Homo sapiens: one gene and its partners. The protein of the gene in region 1 binds, or shares a complex with, the protein of each later gene. Each region holds a gene or a part of one and is shown on either strand. Other genes may lie near its edges. A codon is read from its position in the direction of its gene.

Evidence for each region.
Region 2: the proteins of SF3B1 (region 1) and U2AF2 are in contact, whole or in part, in a crystal structure (PDB 7SN6), measured with the Homo sapiens proteins. Residues at the interface, in NP_036565.2 of Homo sapiens: Ser336, Arg337, Trp338, Asp339, Thr341, Pro342, Ala343, Met346; in NP_009210.1 of Homo sapiens: Met383, Glu388, Glu394, Glu397, Ile398, Asp401, Val402, Glu405, Gln447 (codon at 1,949), Gly448 (codon at 1,952), Leu449 (codon at 1,955), Thr450 (codon at 1,958), Gly451 (codon at 1,961), Arg452 (codon at 1,964), Lys453 (codon at 1,967), Phe454 (codon at 1,970), Ala455 (codon at 1,973), Val459 (codon at 1,985).
Region 3: the proteins of SF3B1 (region 1) and DDX42 are in contact, whole or in part, in a cryo-EM structure (PDB 7EVN), measured with the Homo sapiens proteins. Residues at the interface, in NP_036565.2 of Homo sapiens: Pro509, Pro510, Lys513, Arg517, Thr520, Asp557, Arg558, Tyr561, Lys562, Asp565, Leu566, Arg568, Pro569, Ile583, Ala607, Ile610, Ser611, Arg614, Glu622, Arg625, Asn626, Arg630, Pro646, Phe647, Ala650, Val651, Lys653, Ser654, Lys655, Lys656; in NP_031398.2 of Homo sapiens: Asn68, Glu71, Glu72, Tyr75, Phe76, Glu77, Asp78, Glu79, Glu80, Glu81, Asp114, Pro115, Leu116, Glu117, Phe119, Met120, Val123, Ala127, Asp130, Met131, Arg133, Leu134, Gly146, Ile147, Arg148, Ile151, Glu152, Glu153, Glu154, Asp155.
Region 4: SF3B1 (region 1) and HTATSF1 share a complex: the UniProt entries of both Homo sapiens proteins name them as parts of the 17S U2 SnRNP complex.

Annotation. Positions count from the first base shown.
Region 1 is NC_000002.12:197,425,011-197,432,047, reverse strand, and holds part of SF3B1 (splicing factor 3B subunit 1), read left to right. Parts: intron 1-7,037. UniProt on the Homo sapiens protein: Component of the 17S U2 SnRNP complex of the spliceosome, a large ribonucleoprotein complex that removes introns from transcribed pre-mRNAs.
Region 2 is NC_000019.10:55,672,031-55,675,249, forward strand, and holds the end of U2AF2 (splicing factor U2AF 65 kDa subunit), read left to right. Parts: intron 1-1,903; coding exon 1,904-2,038; 3' UTR 2,039-2,686; downstream 2,687-3,219. UniProt on the Homo sapiens protein: Plays a role in pre-mRNA splicing and 3'-end processing. By recruiting PRPF19 and the PRP19C/Prp19 complex/NTC/Nineteen complex to the RNA polymerase II C-terminal domain (CTD), and thereby pre-mRNA, may couple transcription to splicing.
Region 3 is NC_000017.11:63,805,164-63,812,200, reverse strand, and holds part of DDX42 (ATP-dependent RNA helicase DDX42), read right to left. Parts: coding exon 7,026-7,037; intron 5,667-7,025; coding exon 5,547-5,666; intron 4,478-5,546; coding exon 4,301-4,477; intron 3,382-4,300; coding exon 3,253-3,381; intron 2,642-3,252; coding exon 2,542-2,641; intron 1,689-2,541; coding exon 1,641-1,688; intron 1,126-1,640; coding exon 1,028-1,125; intron 270-1,027; coding exon 1-269. UniProt on the Homo sapiens protein: ATP-dependent RNA helicase that binds to partially double-stranded RNAs (dsRNAs) in order to unwind RNA secondary structures. Unwinding is promoted in the presence of single-strand binding proteins.
Region 4 is NC_000023.11:136,500,577-136,507,613, forward strand, and holds part of HTATSF1 (17S U2 SnRNP complex component HTATSF1), read left to right. Parts: intron 1-87; coding exon 88-242; intron 243-2,201; coding exon 2,202-2,365; intron 2,366-3,787; coding exon 3,788-3,887; intron 3,888-7,037. UniProt on the Homo sapiens protein: Component of the 17S U2 SnRNP complex of the spliceosome, a large ribonucleoprotein complex that removes introns from transcribed pre-mRNAs.

The DNA of each region.
Region 1 (7,037 bases):
GCTCAAGTGATCCTCCCATTTCAGCCTCCTGAGTAGCTACAACTACAGGCGTGTGCTACCATGCCTGGCTAATTTTTACAATTTTTTTTTAGAGATGGGGTCTCGCTATGTTACCCAGGCTGATCTCGAACTCCTGGGCTCAAGCAGTCCTGCCTTGGCCTCCCACCGTGCTAGGATTACAGGTGTGAGCCACGATGCCTGGCCTTGAAATTTTTTTTAATAGAATTAATCATTTAGGAATCAATTTATCAGTATTGTTTGTAGTGTTCAGTAAAATGATTTATATTATAGTTAGTTGTCCTATTGGAGTTTTGTTTAATGAAAAAGCTGAGGGTTGGGATTCAGAATATACTTCCTGTTTTTCTGTGATGTCTTTTAGAAGCCTTGTATTTTGGAAATAGTTGTTCACCGGTTATATCTGGCTGAAGGAGAGTAGATATCACTTAGGGACCAGACTGAAAGGTGTAGGTGAGACATTAACATCTGAGGGCAGTATCTGTGTAACATGTAATGAGCAGTGATTAGAACACTGAAAATAATTCAGACGAAAAATGAAAAATAAAAATCAAGGAGGAAGAAGTGCTACAAGTTGGGTTTAGCAGGATCTAAGGCTTAGAAAGAAGAAAAGGGCTGGGCATGGTGTCTCACACCTATAATCCCAGCACTTTGGGAGGCTGAGGTGGGCAGATCACCCAAGGTTAGGAGTTCCAGACCAGCCTGGCCAACGTGGTGAAACCCCCTCTCTACTAAAAGTACAAAAAAATTAACCGGGCATGGTGGCGTGAGCCTGTGATCCCAGCTCCTCGGGAGGCTGTTGCAGGAGAATCGCTTGAACCCAGGAGGCGAAGGTTGCAGTGAGCTGAGATCACGCCACGCCACTGCACTCCAGCCTGGGCGACTGAGTGAAACTCTGTCTCAAAAAAAAAAAAAAAAAAAAAAAAAAGAAGAAAAGGCACAGGAGGGGAAATCAGAGGGACAGAATTGGTGGGGAGCAGTTAAATAGTTTTATCAGATGTGACCTTCTGCTATCAGTGATATGAATTGTTTTTCTCAAGAGCTTGATATGTAGGTCTGAGTTTTAAAATACAGGAGGCCAGGGGTTGCTCACGCATGTAATCCCAGCATTTTGGGAAGTCAAGACAGGAGGATTGCTTGAGACTGCAAACATACAGAAAAGTAGAGAGCGGCTGGCGCTATACTCCAGCCTGGGCAACAGAGCAGGACTCTGTCTCAGAAAAACAAAACAACAGGCCGGGCACAGTGTGTGAAGACAGGTTTTAATAACACTAGGGTAGGCTGGGCACGGTGGCTTACGCCTGTAATCCCAGCACTTTGGGAGGCTGATGTGGATGGATCACCAGAGGTCAGGAGTTTGAGACCAGCTTGATCAACATGGTGAAACCCTATCTCTACTAAAAATAAAAAAATTAGCTGGGTTTGGTGGTGCGTGCCTGTAATCCCACCTGCTTGGGAGCCTCAGGCAGGAGAATCTCTTGAACCAGGAGGTGGAGGTTGCAGTGAGCCGAGATCGTGCCACTGCACTTCAGTTTGGGCAACAGAGTGAGACTTTGTCTCAAAACAAAATAACAAAAAAAACTACCGTGAGTAGTAAAATGAACCCCTCATATACTCATCACCTAGCTTCAACAGTTACAAGCTTAGGCCAGCTTTGTTTAATTTGTACACTGGTCACTTCTACTCTTCCCATTATTTTGAAGCAGATCTTAGACATACCACTTTATCCATAAATATTTCAGTATGTATTTCTGTGTAGGGACTTAAAAAGATAATACCATGATTACACCTAAAATTAAAATAATAAAATATCTAGTCACTGTTCTGTTTTACCCATTCTTTTAAACTTTGTTTTTCAGTTTCAGTCAGGCTTCCAAGAAAACTGATAACATTTTGATTGGTTGGTTTCTCTTATATCTTTTTCATTTCACAGTACATTGTGATTTAATGATTTATCTCTTAAATCTTTTTCAGTTCATAGGTTCCTCCTGTCTCTTTCTTTTTCCTTGCACTTCATTTGTTGCAGAACCTTTGTCCTGTGGTTTCGCACAGTCTGGAGGAATTGGGGAAAGTGGCTGTCTAAACTGGTTCCCTCCTTCCCATTACTGCTGCAATCAAGATGTTAGGGGGCCTACAAGCAATGGAAGCACCCAGAAAATTATTGGCTCTAAGTATGAGCATAGTTCTGAAATCATACTTCAGGTTTAGATTGTGCTAGTCATGGGAAGGAAATTTTTTTTTTTTTTTTTGAGACAGAGTCTTGCTCTGTTGTCCAGGCTGGAGTGCAGTCGCACAATGTCGGCTCACTGCAAGCTCCGCCTCCCGGGTTCAAGCGATACTTCTGCCTCAGCCTCCCGAGTAGCTGGGACTACAGACGCGCGCCATCACACCCAGCTAATTTTTGTATTTTTAGTAGAGATGGGGTTTCACCACATTGGCCAGACTGGTCTCGAACTCCTGACCTCAGGTGATCCATCCACATCGGCCTCCCAAAGTGCTGGGATTACAGGCGTGAGCCACCGTGCCGGCCTGCCTTAGTGTTATTAAAACCTGTCTTGACACAAAAACCTCTAAACAAATGTTTACAGTAGCCTTACTTGTAATCACTGCAAACAGCTCGATGTACTTCAGCTAGAGAATGGATAAACACACTGTAGTACAATGGAATACTACCCAGTAATAAAAAGGCAGAAACTATTGATGTGCACAACAGTGTGGAAATTGGAATATTTAAGGGTTTAAATGGGTTAAAGAGTGCCAGCTTTTGGCAGTTTTGTGTGGCCAATAGGAAGTCCTAGTCTCTTCTTGCTCAGTCACTAGCAGACAGTATCCCTTTTTTCTTTGTCTTCACATCTGAATGTATTGAACTATGAGTCCAAACTGGGAAGGGATTAGGCTGGAACAGGATTTGTTCATTTTGGTCATAATTGAAGTTGGAAGAGATTATTAGCATAGACGTTTCTTTGCCTCAAGTCTTCATTGTTTTTGACCTCTGGTTACTCATTTTGGTATGTTCTCTCATTTTTTATTTTCATAGTTGCCAACCCCCGCCTTTTTTTTTTGAGATGGAGTTTCACTGTGTCGTCCGGGCTGGAGTGCAGTGGCGTGATCTTGGCTCACTGCAACCTCTGCCTCCCAGACTCAAGCGATTCTCTTGTTGCCCAGGCCAGAGTGCAGTGCTGTGATCTCGGCTCACTGCAACCTCCACCTCCCAGGTTCAAGCGATTCTCATGCCTCAGCCTTCCAAGTAGCTGGGATTACAGGCGTGCCACCACCATGTCTGGCTAATTTTTGTATTTTTAGTGAAGACAGGGTTTCACCATGTTGGCCAGGCCGGCTTTGAACTCCTGATCTCAAGTGATTCAACTGTCTTGACTTCCCAAAGTGCTGGGATTACAGGCGTGAGCCACCGCGCTCAGCCAGTTGCCAAGCAGTTTTATGCATTGATCATTTGTTGTCAGAAATGATCTATTTGCATATTTTTAGTCAGTTTATATTTAAGAAATTATAGGAATACTTACACACCAGGCTGTAACTTAGTGTTGGTTTTGAAAATACGGAGTTAGAGACAACATTGTTATTCCCAGAGATAAAAAATTTGAAGTGGAATTTTACAAACCTTGGCTGGCATGGATAGGGGAGAGAAAAATTTGGAAAATTACTTTTAATTACTTCTACAGATTACCTATTTATTTATTTACTTACTTATTTAGAGGCAAGGCCTGGCTCTAACACCCAGGCTAGAGTGCAGTGGTGTGATCTCAGCTCACTGCAACCTCCGCCTCCTGGGCTCAAGCCATCCTCTGACCTCAGCCTCCTGAGTATCTGGGACTACAGGTGTGCACCTGTAGTGACTAATTTTTGTATTTTTGTCTAATTTTTGTAGAGACAGGGTTTCATCATGTTGCTTAGGCTGGCCTTGAACTTGTGAACTCAAGTGATCTGCCTGCCTGGGCATCCCAAAGTGCCCAGCCTCATTACCTTTTAATTAATTAATTAATTAATTAATTAATTTGAGACGGAGTCTTGCTCTGTCGCCTAGGTTGGAGTGCAGTGGTGCGATCTCGGCTCACTGCATCCTCTGCCTCTTGGGTTCAAGCAATTCTCTGACTCAGCCTCCTGAGTAGCTGGGATTCCAGGCACCCACCACCACACCTGGCTAATTTTTATATTTTTAGTAGAGATGGGGTTTCACCATCTTGGCCAGGCTGATCCTGAACTCCTGACCTCGTGATCCACCCGCCTCGGCCTCCCAAAGTGCTGGGATTACAGGCGTGAGCCACCATGCCCGGCCCAGATTACCTTTTATGAAATATTTTAACATGCAGAAGAGAATAGGACAAAATATAATGAACACTAACCCACTGCTCAGCTTTATCAGTTCTTCATTTTCTGCCGTATTTTTTCCCACCTTTTTATTTATTTTGAAAACGAAACCTCAGACACAAAGTTACCTTATTTATGAATGTCATGGTAATAATTTGTTTGCTCATAAATATTTGGGTATGTTATATTTGGTATTTTAGCACATAGTTTATTAAGAAATTTCTGAGTTTTTAGTTCTCTGAATTGCATAATAAGCTGCTGAGTTTTATGGAATCTGACGGCTTAATTTTATGGATCACATGGTGTATGTGTAAATGTGCTGCAGTTTGCAGTGTGTTAACAAAGCCCATTAAGCTGTTTGGACTTTATATCTATAGTTTCCAGCAGACAGAAAACAATGCCTGATTTGCATATAAACATTTAATTGTACTGCCTATAAGAAGTTCAGTAATATACTCACCTTAGGATTAATTAACTACAAACAGCTGCCTAGCCCCAGGAGATTTTGGGCTGGGTAATTTTGTTACTAAATTTTAATAAGAACCTAGTCATGATTTACATAGATTTCATACCAACACTATTTCAGTACTTTATGAACCTTTGTAATTGGAAAACTCTGATGCTAATCAGCAGGTACATAAAATCAATAGTTAAAATTCAGTAGCTGAAATTAGTTCCAGAATAAGTGTTATCCAAATGAGAAACTAGTTGCTGAAACTTCAGGATGGAAAAGTTGTTTAGATGGAAAATAAGAGAGATGCCTGATAAGGGGGAAAAAGCAAGTTGCACAATATGTGTAGTGTGCAGTTTTTATAAAACAGCACCCCTTTCCTGTTTTTTAGTTGTGTATGAGGTAGAGAAAAGTATAAAATGATGCTCTAAATTGGAAAATTTGGTAGGGGTGGGCTGGGGTTGGAAATGGGAGGGGTGAAGGGCCAGGTAAAATAGTTTCCTAGGGTGTTTGTTAATGATGCAGAATCCTGGGCTTCACAGCCTGAGTTGGAGTTTCAGAGTTAGTGTATCCAAGACCTAAGGTTCTACCTTTGTAACAGGTGCACCAGGTCATTTCTTTGTAGGTGGTCCTTATACTAGACTAATGCTGTAGAGGAGATTGCAGACTATTTCTCCTGATTCATCCATTTGTTTCTTACCTAAATCCTCATGGAAGTAGCATTTGTGGTCCTTTTACAAAAACCTATTTAGGTAAAAGTGATAAATGCACCTGTGGTTTAAAAAAAAAGCCTGAAGCTGGGCGTGGTGGTGGGCATCTATAATCCCAACTATTTGGGAGGCTGAGGCAGGAGAATGGCTTGAACCTGGGAGGCGGAGGTTGCAGTGAGCCGAGATCCAGCCACTGCACTCCAGCCTGGGCAACAAGAGCAAAACTCCGCCTCAAAAAAAGAAAAGAAAAGAAGATGCCCGAAGGGGGTGGGAGTGGGGCAAATGTAGATTAAATTTTTCAAAATATGAAACTACAAACAGAAACAAAAGTAGAGATCATAGTAAAAAGAACCACCCTGCTCATGTGAGGATATTTCTGGCTGCCTGGGCTGCTATAATGGTTTGGGGACAAAGTAACATCTGTGCATGTAGTGGTGCTGTGTAACACAACACACTATAATAATTTTGAGATCCGATCACAACTGGGGCTGCTAAACTCAGCATTAAAACTATTCTATCATTTTGAGTTTCTTTCTTTCTGTTTGTTTCTGAGACAGTCTCTCTCTCATCCAGGCTGGAGTGCAGTGGCAGCAATCGTGGCTTACTGCAGCCTTGACCTCCTGGGCTCAAACAGTCCTCCCACCTGAGCCCCCTAAGTGGCAGGGGACTATAGGTTTGCCACCATACCTGGCTAATTTTAGTATTTTTTGTAGAGATAGGGTTTTGCCATGTCGCCCAGGCTGGTTTTGAACTCCTGGGCTCAAGTGATCCGCCCACCTCAGCCTTCCAAAGTGTTTGGATGACATGCGTGAGCTACCGCGTCTGCCTCCAGTTTGTGAGACGTGCTCCTGTTCCTTTCTTATGTGGAAATGTGACCCAGCCGTGCCTTAGACTAGATAAGGACATTTTGTTATCCTGCACATCTATCTTGAGGAACTATAGAGGGCTTTCTCCCTTAGCTGGGGGGGTGGGAGGTTTTGCAAATACAGGATGCTATTTGAATCTTTATCTTTTGATTCATGCAGCTAGCAATTGAGCTTTTTTATTTTTTATTTGATTTATTTATCTATTTATTTTTTGAGACGGAGTTTCGCTCTTGTCGCCCAGGCTGGAGTGCAATGGCGTGATCTCGACTTACTGCAACCTCCACCTTCCGGGTTCATGTGATTCTCCTGCCTCAGCCTCCCGAGTAGCTGGGATTACAGGCGCCTGCCACCATGCCCGGCTAATTTTTGTATTTTTAGTAGAGACGGGGTTTTAGCACATTGGCCAGGCTGGTCTTGAACTCCTGACCTCAGGTGATCTGCCCACCTCGGCCTCCCGAAGTGCTGGGATTGCAGGTGTGAGCCACTGCGCCCGGCCTAATTTTTATTCATTTATTTATTTATTTGAGATGAGTTTTGCTCTTTGCCCAGGCTAAAGTGCAGTGGCACGTGATCTCGGCTCACTGCAGCCTTGGCCTCCCGGGTTCAAGCAGTTCTGCCTCAGCCTCCTGAGTAGCTGGGACTAGAGGCGTGCGCCATTACACCTGGCTA
Region 2 (3,219 bases), on another chromosome or scaffold:
AGGCAGGAGAATTACTTGAACCCGGGAGGCGGAGGTTGCAGTGAGCCAAGATTACGCCACTGCACTCCAGCCTGGGTGACAGAGCAAGACATGGTCTCAGAAAAAAAAAAAAAAAATTACTGCATTGTATTGTTTTATTCTTAAATTTTTTGTTACATGTCTTTTCAAATATACTTAAAAGTAGGGACTATGATAGTGATACGTTTTTATCATAGTATATGTGCTAATATTTTGGTGTTCCTTCATCTGGCTTCAAGTTACCAATATTTTGTCATTCTTAATTTTCATATTCAGCTTATTTCTCCCCCCTCCTTTTTCTTTGCTGGATTATTTTAAGGCTTATCAGGTTTATTTCACCTGAGATCCTTAAGTATATTTCTATTATTTCTCAATTAACATTTTGGGTCAGATAACTTCTCTGTGGGGGCCTTTGCTGTGCGTTGTAGGATATTGAGATGTATCCCCAGCCTCCACCCACCGGATGCAAGAGCACTACTCCCTGCTGAGACACCCAAAAGCATCTCCAAAGATTGCTCAGTGTTCCCTGGGGACACCCCCCCTCCTCCAGTTGACAACCACTGCTCTAACCAGATAACCTTAAAAAATTGTTTTGTTTTTTTAACAAAACCACAATAGCATGATTAGATTAGCGAAATTCCTTAGTGCCTATTCCATGTTCAAATTTTTCTATCTCAAGAATTTTTTTTTTTTTTTTTGAGACAGAGTCTCGCTGTTGCCCAGGCTGGAGTGCAGTGTGCCCGCCACCACACCTGGTTAATTTTTTTTGTATTTTTAATAGAGACAGGGTTTCACCGTGTTAGCCAGGATGGTCTCGATCTCCTGACTTTGTGAGCCGCCCGTCTTGGCCTCCCAAAGTACTGGGATTACAGGCGTGAGCCACCGCGCCCGGCCAATAATTTTTTTTTTTTTGAGACGGAGCCTCACTCTGTCACCCAGGCTGGAGTGCAGTGGCGCAATCTCGGCTCACTGCATCCTTCACCTCCCGAGTTAAAGAAGAGTAGCTGGGACAGGCACCCGCCATCATGTCTGGCTAATTTTTGTATTTTTGGTAGAGATGGGGTTTCGCTATGTTGGCCATGCTGGTCTTGAACTCCTGACCTCAGGTGATCCATCTGCCTCAGCCTCCCAAAGTACTGGGATTACAGGCGTGAGCCACTGTGCCCAGCCGAGGATATTTTTTATAGTTTGTTTCAGTAAGGATCCATATCAGGTCCCTGCCTTGAATTTGGTTACAAAGTTTGTGTAATTTATCCTTTGTACCTCACTCCCTCTTTTTTTTTTTTGCAAGCTCTTTTATTTGTAGAAGAAATAAGTTCATCTGCTATATAGAATTTTCAGTGTTCGTGTAGGCTCATTGTATCCTTCCCTCCCTCCATTTTCCTGTAAATTGGTTTAAGCAAGGTTAGAAGCTCGAATAGATCAAGGTTCAAGTTTTTAAATTTTATTCAACCTGGGTTTGAATCCTAATTTCTGAGCTTCCCTTAGTTCACTTATTGTTGGGAGAACATGGCTGTTGGGGTGGTTCTGGGAGCGCCCACCATGGTGGCTCGTGTGGAGTAGACACTCAGCACGAGGGACCCCTCCCCCGCGGTGAGCTCGTCTAGGCCTCCCGCCTGCGCTCTATGGCTCTGCTGAGTTTCTGGCATGTCTCTATTCTTTCTCCCTCTCCATGCCTATGGTGTGTTTATGCTCTTGTTTTTTGATCCTGGAGAATATTTGGGTGAACTCCACCAAACCTGCTTACTAAGGGTCCCTTTCTGACACCTGTGGCGAAGCCCCCTCCTCCCTGTCCCTTCCTGCCTTCAGTGCTGGGGTTGGGTGGACGCTGACTGGCTGTTGGGCGTGAGCCTTGTTCACAAACCTGCCTCTCCTTTCCCCACAGATCTTTGTGGAGTTCACCTCTGTGTTTGACTGCCAGAAAGCCATGCAGGGCCTGACGGGCCGCAAGTTCGCCAACAGAGTGGTTGTCACAAAATACTGTGACCCCGACTCTTATCACCGCCGGGACTTCTGGTAGAGGCGGCTGGGGGAGGGTGGGGGCAGGGCTGGCTGGGGGCTTCTCCCCACTCCCGCCCCCCCCTTATCCCCCTCTGAAGACGATGGGCAGAGGAGTGACAGCCGCAGACACACGACAGCCGGCAGCAACTGGAATGGCAGCAATTAAGGGTGGGGGGCGGGGGTTGGGGGGTTGGGGGGTTAGGGCAGGGAGGGGACTGGGGAAGTGCGCACACAGCCCACACAGACAACACGCACCCACACAGACACAGAGGGAAGGGGTTGGGATGGGGACAGGGTGCACAGCAGGGCGGGGTAGGACCCCAGCCCCTCCCAAAACAGCCTCTCCTTCTCCCATAGACCCCTTTCTTCTCCCCTTCCCCACGGTAGGAACATAGCGTGTTTATATTTTATGGCCAAACTATTTTGAATTTTGTTGTCCGGCCCTCAGTGCCCTGCCCTCTCCCTTACCAGGACCACAGCTCTGTTCCTTCGGCCTCTGGTCCTCTCTGGTCCCCTCCTGGGTTTCTTACGTAGTTGATTTTTCCTCTTTAGTCTCCCCCGACCTGCGCCCAGCCCCGTGGCCCCTGCCCCTCTCCTACTCTCTGTGGCAGTTTCATATTTGCTAAGACGAATTTGCTCATTAAACATTTTGTTGTATTTTACTTTATGGAGCGGCTGTGTGTCCAGTATGTCCGACCCTCTTCCTCGGTTCTGGGCTCGGGTGGGGGTTCCCTTGGCAAACTGCGGGCCCCTGGCTGGGACGCCCCTGCTGCCGGCGCCGGCAGCCTCGAGGCCTTCCCTGCTTGCGCGGTGCCCTTCTCGGGGTCGGCACAGGCACAGCCCCGGGGGACGTGAGGTTCCCGAGTGCTCTCCCACCCCGCCGACAGGAGGGATGGTGGCCGAGCGGGCCGGGGCGGGCGTGGCGTGGGTGTGCCAGGAGCTCCGCGGTTGCCGCCAAGCGAGCTGGAGCTGACTCTCGGCGTTCCGTGAGCACCGCGCGGATCCCCCGCTGCAGCGGGCGGAAGTGACGTAGAGGCGCCTAGCAACGGGGCCCAGCGCGCCGGAAGTGATGCCTTCCAGGTTGGCTTGGCTGCGGAAGCGACTCCTGCCAGGGCGGGGTGCGGCACGGGAGGGCGGGGAGCGCGGCAATTTCCGCTTCCGGTCCGTCGCCTCCTTCTGTTGCTTCCCGTCTCCTCGGCG
Region 3 (7,037 bases), on another chromosome or scaffold:
TCTGTGGCCACCAGGACTGGGATGTCCTTTTTCTTAAAGTCTGAAATGACCTTGTTTCTCTCACTCTGATCCATATCCCCATGGAGCAGCCCAAGATTATGACCCTCCTGTTTAAGGTTATTCGCTAGCTCTTCAGCATTGGCTTTTTTAGTAACAAAGAGGAGGACACTCCCTGAAGAGGTAAATTCTACCAGACGCCGGGTAAGCCAGTTCCATTTACTAGGTCCAGAATGGAGAATCTCCACAATCTGTGTCACATCTTCATTTGCCTGAGAAGGAAGAAATGAAACAGATGATTGTGACATTGGAGCCACAGGGCACCTGAACAAGGACTAGGCATTATATTTCTACCTGCATCGAGAAGACCTTGAACAATCCCAGTTCTCCTTGGGCCTTCAGCAAGTCAAGTGCAGCTCAAAACTCACCTCTCCTTTCCAATCACCTTGCTCTCCACCTGGTGTACATACCTAATTTGTATGCCCCACTACTTTGTAGAGCTTTCCTTAACAATAACCATGGCAAGCAACTGAAGGATTCTCTAAGCAGCCATAACTGAATTCCAAGTCCCAATTCAGAGTAATTTTTCACATAGCGCATATGTACAGGTAAGAAATGAAACCTGATTTTTTCCAGGCCTTCCAGGTCACCCTTTCCCTCCTGCGTAGGCCCCTACCACAATAATTAAAACGTCAGTTCCAACCTAATACGCTGATGCTTCCAGGCACATCTTTTTGTCTCTTTGAAGCCTTTTTAAAACAATTGTAAGTTTTGAGACATTCAATAAAACAAAAAAAACACAAAATGAACAAAATCAACTCATACCCATCACCTAGCTTCAATGATTCCCAACATTTTGCCAGTCTTGTTACGTCTATCCCCACAACTTGCAAAATACCCAATCTCAAGCATGTTGCATCTATAAACATAACATCTTTTTTTTTTATCTCAATAGTGAGAAATTAATTCTGTGTTCCATAATATGAGAAATAAACCCATTAAGGTCCCATCCAGCCCTGCTTAGGGTTACCTCTCCAATATCTCCCTGCACCACTCGAATAGGGTCGATCAGGATGTCTCTGGCCAACTTTTCAATCTTCTTCCGAAAAGTTGCACTAAATAAGAGAGCTAAAAGGTAAGATAAATTCTGTTAGAGAAACAATATGATATCTTTATGCATACCCATTAAGCTTCTTTGGCATTCAGGATTATTCAGTTTTTTTACATAAGCTCACCTGAACTTTAAATTTAGTTTAGAAACTGATTCACTAGGGAAAGATTTGCTCTTATTCTATTTTTATTACATTTTTAGTTAAGACAAGTTGTCAGTATGGTTCAGAAAAAGACTCTTGATTTCAAATCAGCAGATCTGTACTGTACACTGCTTCTACCCACTGATAAAACTGTATAATTTAGGGCAGTTTATTTAATTTCTGATCCTTGGTTTTATCATCTATAAAAAGGAACAAGTTATATCTAGTGCTAAGATCCTGTCCAGCTCAGATAAACTCATTACCTCCCTTATTATGGTTCTCACCAACAGACACAAGATCATTTTTACTTCCATAACTCTGAGTGCTTATAAAATAAATAAGTGCCCTTTTTAGTACAAATTTGGTTTAACAAAGGTGCTTCATACATACTCTGCCTGTCAGGACGAACATGACTTGCTATGGATCGAACTTGGTACTCTGCAAGAAACAGAACAATAAAATTATTATAACCTGAAATACAGTTTGGGAAGCCTGGAAAAAGCCATATTAGTAAAAGTCTTCATAAGAAGTTGTAAGAATTAAGAAAATTAGAAACCCCAGGCCAGGCACAGTGGCTCATGCCTGTAATCCTAGCACTTTCGGAGGCCGAAGCAGGCGGATCACTTGAGGTCAGGAGTTCGCAGCCTGGTCAACACAGCTATCTCTACTAAAAATACCAAAAAAAAAAAAAAAAAAAAATAGCCAGGCTGTGGGGTAGGTGCCTATCACCCCAACTACTCAGGAGGCTGAGGCAGAAGAATCGCTTGAAACTGGAAGGAGGAAGTTGCAGTGAGATCGCACCGCTGCACTGCAGCCTGGGCAACAAAAGCAAAACTCTGTCTCAAGAAAAAAGAAGCTCCTAAACATATCATTCAGCATAAAAGTGAAAAATTTTCCCTCCATCCAACTGGGCTAGGTCTAGCAGTGTTCCAATCAGTAAAGACAGCTACGAGGATAGGAAAGCAAAGGGCCTCGAATGATCTGACATTCATCTACCCAAGAACACAGACCTTAACCTCTATGATCAAAGGCATATGGATAAAAATGAAGACAGAGAAAATATTCCCCTTATATACAAAGGCACTTTGAAATTTCCTCAACCCAATAAAACCTAACATACTTTTCCAGAGAAAACTCCTAAAAATGTTCATCTTAGCTATATTTCTATAGTCTAACCCCATCCAGGAGTATTTTTAGCTTCTCTCATGCTGAAAAAACAGTCTAGAAAGACATGGAAAAAAAACTAGTATCATGAGGATGGGGACAGAAGAAACTGGTATTCAAGGCATACCAAATCCCATGTCAAACATTCGATCTGCTTCATCAAACACAAGGTAAGAGACTCTTTGAAGATTGGTAGCTTTCTTTTTCACATGATCTATCAGTCGACCCTATAAGATCAACAAAATGAACAGTAAGTATAATTAAAGGCATTCACAGGGACTTTCTAAGCAGTTGCACTCCTGGCAAAAGTGCTAATTCTCTAGTCTCAGACTGTAATAGATACTGGTCCAACAGCCACATACCTTATGCACTACTTAGCTCAAAGGAACAGAAATTTTGAAAACTCAATCGGCATCTTCATTTACACTGTGATTTAAATTCTGTGGGAAAGTGGCCAGAAGCAGTTTTTGAGGCATTCTAAAGTGACCTGATTTAAAGCATAATGACAGGTTTCAATGTTTAAACTACACTCTTCTAGGCTATTCTGACCATATGTATCTTTCTGATTCTTGATGAACTTGGCAATCATTTTGTGGGAGAGTATAAGAAAAACTATTTGACATAGAGGGGAATTTGTAGCTACTAGCCTATATGTCACAGAGACTCTCACTGAACTGCTAATTTAGCCACCAATCAAAATTAAAACCACAGCCTGCCGTTCATCAGTATATTTTCAACCCTGCTTTTACCACACTTTAGGGGAAATTCTCTGCAAAACTAATCATGTTTTCCATACCGAGGGAGGCTGAGAAGCCATTTAAACACAAGGCATACTTACTGGGGTACACACAACAATCTCTGCCCCCTCCTGAAGGGCCTTGGCCTGCTCCCACATACTCCCTCCTCCATATACGGCCACTGATCGAAGATTATATGCTTTTCCAAACCGCTTACATTCTGCATGGATCTACAAAGTTGTGAATAATATATTAACAAACTGTGACACTAACAAATACCTGTCACAACCCAAACGAAGTTCTGAAAAACAGAATGTGATGTCATAAAAAATCGAAACCTAGAACATACTTTAAAACCACGATTTTATTCATAAAGGTATAAATGAATGGAATACCATTATTGCATCTCAACAGATTATCTAAAATCTTTTATTCATTTTACCCCCTTCTCTTCCTGATCCTGTCACTGCTTTTCTACCAAGATAAAATGAACTCATCCTACAGAAAAACTGTCAGCTTATAATACAAACAATCCCCATATCACAATAGGCTTTTCCTCTTAAAAAAAGTAGTTCTGGCCGGGCACAGTGGCTCACACCTGTAATCCCAGCACTGTGGGAGGCCAAGGCAAGCAGATCACTTGAGGTCAGGAGTTTGAGACCAGCCTGGCCAACATGGTGAAACCCCGTCTCTACTAAAAATAAAAAAATTAGCCAGGTGTGGTGGCGTGTGCCCGTGATCCCAGCCTCTCGGCTGAGGCAGGAGAATTGCTTGAAACTGGGAGGTGGAGGTTGCAGTGAGCTGAGATCACACCACTGCACTCCAGCCTGGGCAAAAGAGTGAGACTCTGTCTCAAAAAAAGCAAATAAATAAAAATAAATAAAAACAGTAGTTTTTAGGGGAAAATATGTATTTGGTTATATAGAAAATATTTAACACATAATACTTTCCAAAAGTTTCCTGGTAGCACAACACTGTGAATATACTTAATGCCACTGAACTGTACATTAAAAATGGTTAAGATAATCAATTTTGTGTGTATCTTATCACAATTAAAAAAAAAAGTTTCCTGGTCATTCTACCTCACTTGACTGGCTGGTCCCTTGCTAGTCCACATATGGAAGGAGGCATTCTATAGAAAGCACATACCTGCTGGCAAAGCTCCCTGGTAGGACACACAATCACTGCAATTGGTCCATCACCTGGTTCCAACTCCTTCTGGTCCATTATATGAATCAACATGGGCCAAATGAAGGCTGCAGTTTTCCCACTACCTGTTTTGGCAATACCAATCATGTCTCTACCACTTAATGCCACAGGCACACCCTGGAGAAAAAGTAAAATATAACCACTCTAAAATTTCAATTCTAAAGATGTACTGAAGCAAATCCTGGGGAATGATAAATGACTACTAACATTTTTATTTGCAATGGAACAAAACATACCTGGTGCTATGCATACTGGTTGTGAAATAGAAATATCAATATCCAACATTCTCATTAACTTCTTGATTTATAGGAAATGACATCATTCTCATTACGTGGATATCAGCCACCACTTACAGAACAGAAACAACTCCATTTTGTTTAAAATACAGAAATGAAAAATCAAGGCCGGGCAGTGGCTCACGCCTGTAATCCCAGCACTTTGGGAGGCCGAGGTGGGCAGGTTCCCTGAGCTCAGGAGCTCGAGACCAGCCTGGGCAACACGGTGAAACCCTATCTCAACTAAAATACAAAAAATTAGCCAGGTGTGCTGGCGTGCGCCTGTAATCCCACCTACTTGGGAGGCCGAGGCAGGAGAATTGCTTGAACCTGGGAGGCAGAGATTGCAGTGAGCCAAGATCGCGCCACTGCACTCCAGCTTGGACAACAGAGTGAGACTCTGTCCCCAAAAAAAACAAAAACAAAAACAAAACAGAAAAATTGCAATTTATAATGAAGGGTTGCTAAAATTTTAAAAATTTTCCCCCCTTAAGAAGGTACAGACTATCTCATTCATATACAGAAAATGAGAATGTTCTGCATAAGAATAAATAAATCCCATATATAAATGGGAAAAAGAAGCTAAAACTTTCAGTAATGAATGAGAATTTTCAAGTGACGAACGAAGGAATTCTAGTCATTGACAGTGCTAAATTTGTCTATATACGAACCTTTTTGGTTAGGTTTAGGCCTAATAAATTATTTTCTTCATATCATATTTTCAACATACGTATCAGATACAAAAGAATATTTGTCAGCCATTTAGTGACTTCTTAAGAGTGATAAATACCTCTATCCTTATCAACAAGGTTCTACACTAAACACTGTTTTACTGCTGTGATTTGTTTTTAAATTAATATAGTCATGAAAGACTACCCTACTTTATTTTTCTTTCATTATGTTTTACTTACCTGGCACTGTATTGGAGTGGGCTGTGTGTATTCAGATTTCCGAATCTGGTGCATAAGTTGTTCGTCAAACCCAAAATGAGCAAAGCTACTTCCTGGTCTAGGAGGTGCAGCACCAGAGACCTAGAGATAGAGACAACTCCCCAGAATGACTTGTACTTCAACATTAACAGCATTTGAAGTTCAACAATACTTACCTGGATCTAGCATTTTAGCTGGAGTATGAAGTAAAAATACAAGTCTGTAAGCCAAAATCATACAATGAAAAGGAAAAACCTCAAATGGTAACAAATATAAACCTCATATTAAAAACTCCATGATAAATATTCCCAAGATAATTGTCATACAATTTTAAATGATTAAAAATTTCTTAACTCAAAATTAATTTTCTCATAACAAATAAAACGGAAAAAAAATTGTTCAATGAATTGGGAAGCCATAACTGTTCTTTTGCCATTTTGCATTAAGTATTAACCAGATGGTAGAAAAAAATTAATGTATCTTACTCTTGAAATGAAAATTCCAAGTGGGCTCCAAATAAGACAAGTCTACACATGCTGGCTACCAAGATATAATCTACTGCCTCCATTTTCAGTTATGCTTGATGAATTAAAGTCTCACTTAGTGATGGTCCAGCCACTGTCAAGCCCTGTTCAAACTGCACCTAGGTGAAGAATGGGGCTTATAATCTCCATTTTGTCCCCCAAAGTGGTAACCTTTCAATGCTTCTCTGGTGATGTTGATATTTCCAATCAGGATTTCAGGGGTTTTACTTAAAATTTTTCTTGGGTCACTGGGGAGATGAGTAACCTCTTGGAAAACAGACAAGTGTACACACACAAATACACACCCCTCCTGGAAAACAGGAGTTTAAACATCGTGTAGCAACTGATAAGGTGCACACAGGCGAGAAAGTTGTCTATATTAGAGTAGATAGCATAGCATATTTTTTCTGTGTGTTTCATTTACCATCTATCAGCACCTTAAACCAATGTAGCCAATGTGCAGCCCAAAACTTTCTGGTAGGCAGTTTAAACCATTCTGAAATTAGTACATGCATATTTTTAAAAGGTATTAGTTTATTCTAATTTTTAAAATAAAGCATACTATATGTAATTTGACAGACAAGTTTATCTTCATTTCAAAATATTCTAAGATATCATCTGTTAACATCTATTCCTTTTGTTTCCTCTTCCTTTAGATGGGGACTCCCACCCTTCATCACTAGCCCATCCAGCACAGAACATATAAAACTGACTGAAATATGAAACAAGAAAATGATCCTATCCTAAAACAGCATCTAGAAGACTAAAACAATCAAATTAAGAGACATGAACAGAAGGGATATAATAATTACTCTGGCAAAGACAGTTCAGAGACCATTAGAAAAGAAATTCAAGGTTATTAGTTTAGATAACCAATAATACTAAATCTGGACTAATTAACATTAATATTAAGAATATTGAGCTTAATGATGCTTACCCGAAGATTGAG
Region 4 (7,037 bases), on another chromosome or scaffold:
AAGTTATAGATTTCTAATTGGTAGAATGCTAAGTAATTCACCTTCATTATCAATTATAAATGTTTTTTAATTTTTCTTAAATGACAGGTTTGCCTCCAGATATTACAGTGGATGAATTTATACAACTTATGTCCAAGTTTGGCATTATTATGAGAGATCCTCAGACAGAAGAATTTAAGGTCAAACTTTACAAAGATAATCAAGGAAATCTTAAAGGAGACGGTCTTTGCTGTTATTTGAAAGTAAGTTGTATGATCAAATAAGTTTCTTGTATCTTCGTTTTTAACTCAGGAACCAGGGCTATAATTTCTATAGATGATAACCAACACCAAGAACTGTTCAAAACAGGATATGAAGAAAACTGAAATTTCAGTTAGTACCTGTGTGTATCACATTGGTAAGATTATTCACTTGTTTTAAGAAAATATGTTATCAGGTAAAAGTATTATATAAGTATGCGACTGGAGTGCTTCTTCTGTCTTGAAAAATTCTCACTAGAAAGATTTTTTTATTGATGTGTACAGTCAATTCAGACTACATTTTAAAAATTCAAGAAGAAAAAAAGCCAGTAACATTTTAGTTGTCCATTGGAATGAATTACACCAGGGTTCAGCAAACTCGGGCTCTGTTTTGGTAAATACAGCTTTATGGAACACAGCCACACTAATTCATTTATGCATTTGTCTATGGTTGCCTTTGTGTTTCACTGATAGGGTTGAGTGGTTGCAGCACAGACCTTGTGGCCTACAAAGCCTAAAATATTTACGAACTGGCCCTTTAACAAAAGGATTTTTCTGACCCTTGAATTAGACCATGAAGGAGACGATAGCTTATTCTTACTGCTTTAAAATATTTTTTTGAATGTGAGAAAAGAGAGAGTGGTATTAAGAGAAATTTGCAGAACTTCATGTAGTCATAGTACCATAAATTACACAAAGAAACCTCAATGCCAGAGGCAGCCATCATTTCTGGAACACCTGCCACCTTAGGAGCATGTGTTATACATTATCACAGGGTACAGAACAAATGATGACATGTACATAAGTCAAACCTGGAAATAATTACAGAGTAAAGTCAAAATGGTAAAGCAAAAGTACAAACACCACAGGTGTGTTGTGAGTATACAGTATTCCAGTGAGATCAGAAGAGAGTAGGATTAAGCTGACAGCTTTTTGGGAAATAGGTTTTTGACCTGAATCTTAAACGTGATGGTTATGGGACATGAGCATGACCATTTTAGGATGGTAGTTTTGTAATGTTCAAATGTAAGGAGATTTGAGGGTTTTATAAGTTCTTTAAGGATTATTAAAAAATCTGCGAACAGATTCTTAGGGAGTTCTGTTAGATTTTTTAAATTTTTAAAGGAAAAAAATTGAGTTTTGAGACCCATAGAAGTACAAGATTGTCAAAACAGTAAATTGAGTTCCAGGAAAATATAGTGAATTATTCCAGGACCCATATATGTGAGCAGCTGAGTTCAGTTATCCATTTTTCTTTTCTACAGGTCCTCTGATCTTTGACTCTGTTTGTATAGGGCTGATAACTGTCCTTTCTCTAAGACCTGGAATCCATACATGTATTTAATATAAAGTACAAGTCATCAGATAATTGTCTTCTACTTCTCAGTGTATTACAGACTCACAATTTAATGGATGAACCAAAAAATTAAAGGCTGTCTATGGTGTTCCCAATTCCTTGAGTCATCTAGTCTTTTAAGTAAGAGTATTATAGAATTTTAAAAGAAATACACCTTAGAAATCATGCAGATTTGCTCCCTTCATTCTGCAAATGAGAAATTGTGGCCTCAAGAGACAAAATTACCCAATAATAATATTTATTGAACACCTACCATATGTTAGTCCTTATCCTTTCCATGCATTATTTCATTTAATTTTGTCAAGAACCTTGTGATGAAGGTATTAACTATTTCCATTCTACATACGACGATATTGGGGCTCAGGAAGCTTGAATAATTTACCCAAGTTCACACAGCCGGTTAGGGACAGCTGTGTCTCAGATGCGGGTTTCCTGGTTCAGATTCTAGAGTTCTTTATCTCAAAGAGAGAACGAGATCTCGTATATTCATAATATATAAATATAAGAATTTAAATTATTTTATGTATAATCATCGTTCATCTAAAAAACTCCTGAAGTTTTATTTCGTTGTATAACTGACTATATTTTGTCTTACATTTATAAAGAGAGAATCTGTGGAACTTGCATTAAAACTTTTGGATGAAGATGAAATTAGAGGCTACAAATTACATGTTGAGGTGGCAAAGTTTCAACTGAAGGGAGAATATGATGCCTCAAAGAAGAAGAAGAAGTGCAAAGACTATAAGAAGAAGCTGTCTATGCAACAAAAGTTTGTAATTTTTTTCCCTTTTGAAAGGTTCCATATATTCTAGAGTATATTTTTGGTAATAGCCATCTAGTTTTATTCTGTCAAGTGTGCCTACACATTATTTTAAAATAATTTCATTAGCTCATCAGGTACCTTTAGCAATCTATACAATAGGTTTAGATTTAGCAGTGGTGGGGATTTTAATTTTCCAGAGTGTCTATTTGTAATATAATAAGGGCTTAAATGAGCTAAGAGAAGCCATCTGTTTGGAAAACGTTGAACATCAAATTAAATAAGATAGTTTAGGCTTATGTACCAGAACCGTTTACTTCTGTGTGGATTGAAATCAGTGGTACCAGGAGCTAAATTTTTCTATACAGGTTTGTTATAGGAATTAGAAATGACAGGATTTTATAATTGTATTTACTGTAGTTGTATGTAGTATATACATAATGTCATCAAGTTTCTATTATTATTCTGTTTGTTTAATATACTTTGAAATATACTAGTTTTAAGAAATTAGTCAAAATGATAAATACTTTTATCAGAGTAAATTCTAATGACACTTCTAACACCATGCTTAAACTAATTAAATATCATAAAAGCATTTAGTTGTGATGTCTCATTGTTTTTACAAGTGTAGGTAAAATTGATAACCACATATTTTTTAAACAATATCAGTAAAATTTATGATTGTAACAGAGTTGAGTAGTTTTATGTATTTGAGTGCAGTTTGTTTTTTATAATGATAAAGTACCTAAAAACCAATACAATTTAAATATATTTTTTAGCCTCAAGGTATATCTTTCTGAACTCATAAATACTAAGAATTAGAGATTTTTCAAGGGTCTCATTGGAATGTTTGTATAATCAGACAACAGTTGCCCTGAAAAACATTTCATCTGGGGATTTCAGATACTGGGATCATTTTGCCTCTGCCTTTTATTTTATTTTATTTTATTTATTTGAGGCAAGAGTCTCACTCTGTCACACAGGCTGGAGTGCAGGGGTGCAATGTTGGCTCACTGCAACCTGTACCTCCGGGGTTCAAGCTATACTCATGCCTCAGCCTCCCCAGTAGCTGGGATTACAGACGTGCACCACCACGCCTGGCTGATTTTTGTATTTTTAGTAGAGATGGGGTTTCACCATGTTGGCCAGGCTGGTCTTGAACTCCTGGCCTCAAGTGATCCGCCCGCCTCGGCCTCCCAAAGTGCTGGGATTATAGGTATGAGCCACCGCACACGGCCCCCTGCCCATTATTTTTATTTCAGAAAGTTTTCTGACTGGAACTATGACTGAAATACAGTTTGTTGTTGTAAAATCCAGTAATTATCTTTATTAAATACTCAGTAAAGTATTGTATGAACAACTCATTCTTTTCTCTCTCCAACAAGTCTGAAGCAAAATTTACAGTTTGTTGTTACTGCTTCATTGCCTCAGGCAGTTGGATTGGAGACCTGAGAGGCGAGCCGGACCATCCCGGATGCGCCATGAGCGAGTTGTCATCATCAAGAATATGTTTCATCCTATGGATTTTGAGGTAGGAAGTGGTGTGCTTACTGATAGAAATGCTGATAGGCTTTTTTTCTCTCAAGGGAGCCTGGAGCTTGCCTCGCCTCATCTTTGTCTTGTCACCTCCTACGTGTTTGTGCAGCGAGTAGTAAAGGAAGATGGAGCCAAGAAGCTACTTAAGTCTTTTGATTTCCCTTCCCTTTGTTTAGCCCAGTATTGTTTTAAAGTGTATCACAGATAAGACTGTTTAATAACCATACTGCGCCCCAAGCAGCAGCTACTTGGTATGGGAAACCATTGAAAAATATCATCATCAAAAGATTTATGGGAACTGCTTGTGGATTTTCAGTGCAAGCCAACAAGTATGGCCTGATTTTGGTGGGGAGTACCAGCTTCACAATTGTAAATGCAAACTTCAGTTTGGTACTAAAAGTTATAATATTTAATGTCCGTGGAAAATTCCAAGAACAGCAAGTAAAAGTGAATAAGTACATCTGTTATGTATCAACTTTTTTAAGTGATTTTAAAAAAAGTTAATGGAACTGTCCTTCCTCCCCTCAAAAAAGTGAATAAAGGAGAAGCAAAGAACAAGGAGTTCTGAGGAATATTGTCATCAAAGTACCTTGTGTTACATTCTGCCTGTATTCTTATCTCTGTCTACTGGTGTAGACTGACTTTATTGTTGTGGAGAAACAACTCTTTATTCTCTCCCTGGTTCTGAAATTAGTGATAGCAAGTTATACAGAAAGCAGGTTATACAGATAGCAAGTTATACAGAGAAAAATGTTCATAACGTAAAATTCCGTTTTTACCAATAATCTAGTTGTAAATTAGTGCCCATTCCTGACCCTTTTGTGCATTTAAACAGTCAAAATGGTAATATAATTGTAGCTCCCTTAGAGAGGGCCCCAAAATGGACAGTTCAGCTCTATCTCAATGAATAGTGTTGTGATAAGGTTTACTGTGTACCTATGGAGTTTGGGCATCTTTTGAGGTCATTGGAAATATACGTCTGGTTTATTTATGAGATTGATTGATATCTCTTCTGACTAGAAATCTGGAAGAATTTTGAAATATAACAGTTTACAGTTTTACAGTTGCAGTGATAATGAAGTATGGTTTATAAACACGTGCACACCAGATGCATTTTGAAATACTGTTTTTGCCAGCAATAACTTTAAAATGAATGCATAGAATTACAAAAATATTAGCTGGGCATGGTGGCGCATACCTGTAATCCCAGCTACTCAGGAGGCTGATTCAGGAGAATCACCTGAACCCGGTAGGCAGAGGTTATGGTAAGATCGCGCCACTGCACTCCAGCCTGGGCAACGGAGCGAGACTCCATCTCAAAACAAAACAAAATAAAACAAAACAAAGAACCAGATCATAGTCATTAAAGCAGCATATAAAATAAATGCACAGATTGATCACAATATTTAGTCTGCTAAATACAACTCCGGGATTTCCTATTATTTATTACATTTTATCCCCCTGCTAAATAAGTGATTTATTAGGTGACATATTTATTTCTGTGACTCGAGGTCTTTGATTCACACATTTCATACTCCTGCCACCCAAGTGTGAATGTAAATGCAAACCTAATTCAAACTATCTGGAACCTCTGCAAGTAGAAGTCTGTTGTGTAATTTTAATCTATTCTTGTTTCTACCTCCTGCCTTGCTCATTGAAATACCTTATTTGAGTCTAAGGATCACCCCAGGCAGACTTAGCTCTTCCCAGCTTAACAAATATTCTTTCCCCAAAACCACATTTATTCTACCTTGACCCCTATACATTCCCTCCAGTGAATATTTTTAAAGATAGAAGTTTCATGCTTGCAAATTCCTGATTTTTTTTTTAATCTTCTTGGTTTAGTATAAACATTACTTTGGAGTTACAGAGCCTTTATACTACCCTATTTTGTTTCCTTCATAGCATTTATTATTATCTGAAGTAATTTTGACTCGTCTACTAGAATGTGAGCTCCATGACACCCAGTATTTTGTCTACCTTGTTTGCTGCTGTATTCTCAGTACATAGAATTTGCCTGGCACACAGTTGGCCCTTAATATTTATGTGATGAAGAATTGAAAGAATTGCTAAATGAAACCCTTGTTATTTACAAGCCAGAGTCTTTTCATTCAGCCAGTGGATAAAACATTTTCTCTTCAGCATCTTTGCAAATGAAAGCAAATTTTCTTCTTAGATGCTTATTCCACAAAGGATGGTGGGACATTGTCTTGGCCGTGGCGGAATTAGTTCACAAAGAAATGCTTGGTGATGCTATCCTTGTTTGCCCACCTTCCTGGCCTCACATGGTCCAACTAGCTTGCTGAGAGCGTGTCAACAAGAAGAGTGACAAATAATCTTGCTTTTGTTCACTGTCTCTGAGCACCTGAACCTCAGTGTAGACCTGTGCTGTCAGATATGGTAGACTGTAGCCATGTGTGGTTAAATGTAAGTTAATTAAAATGAAATAAAATTCAGTTCATCGCTTCTACTAGGCACATGTAGCTAGTAGCTACCATATTGGATAATGCAGATATACAACATTTTCATTATCACAGAACCTTCTATTGGACAACACTGGTATAGACATTATATAACTTTTGATAGAAGTGTCCAACAGGAAAACCTGCTTTTATTGCATGTTTTGGGGGAGTGTTTGATTTGACTCAAGACTCCATATGAACCTAAAGAACACACAGCAGCATTGAGCTTTTTAGTGGAAAACAAAAACTGAATTGTCAGGTTATCCTGAGATATCTGAAAGGAGTCAGATTTTGGGTGGAGGGGTATATTTTGATTCCAAACAGTTAGAAGCAACATACCTAAGAATACTGTCTGATCTGAAGGCTAACATTTTTAATGTAACTTCAGAGGGTCTTCAGTATTTAATTCAAATCCTTACTTTAAAATGCATTGCCTGGCAAATTTGAATACCAGGACATGAAGAGTCAAAACTCAAATGCATTAGCCGGGCATGATAGCACGCACCTGTAATCCCAGCTACTTGGAAGGCTGAGGCACGAGGATCACTTGAATCCGGGAGGCAGAGGCTGCAGTGAGCCAAGATCGCGCCACTGCACTCCAGCCTGGGCAACAGAGTAAGACTCTGTCTTCAAAAAAAAAAAAGAAAGAAAGCAAAGCACTGAGACATTGGTGTAGAAATGGA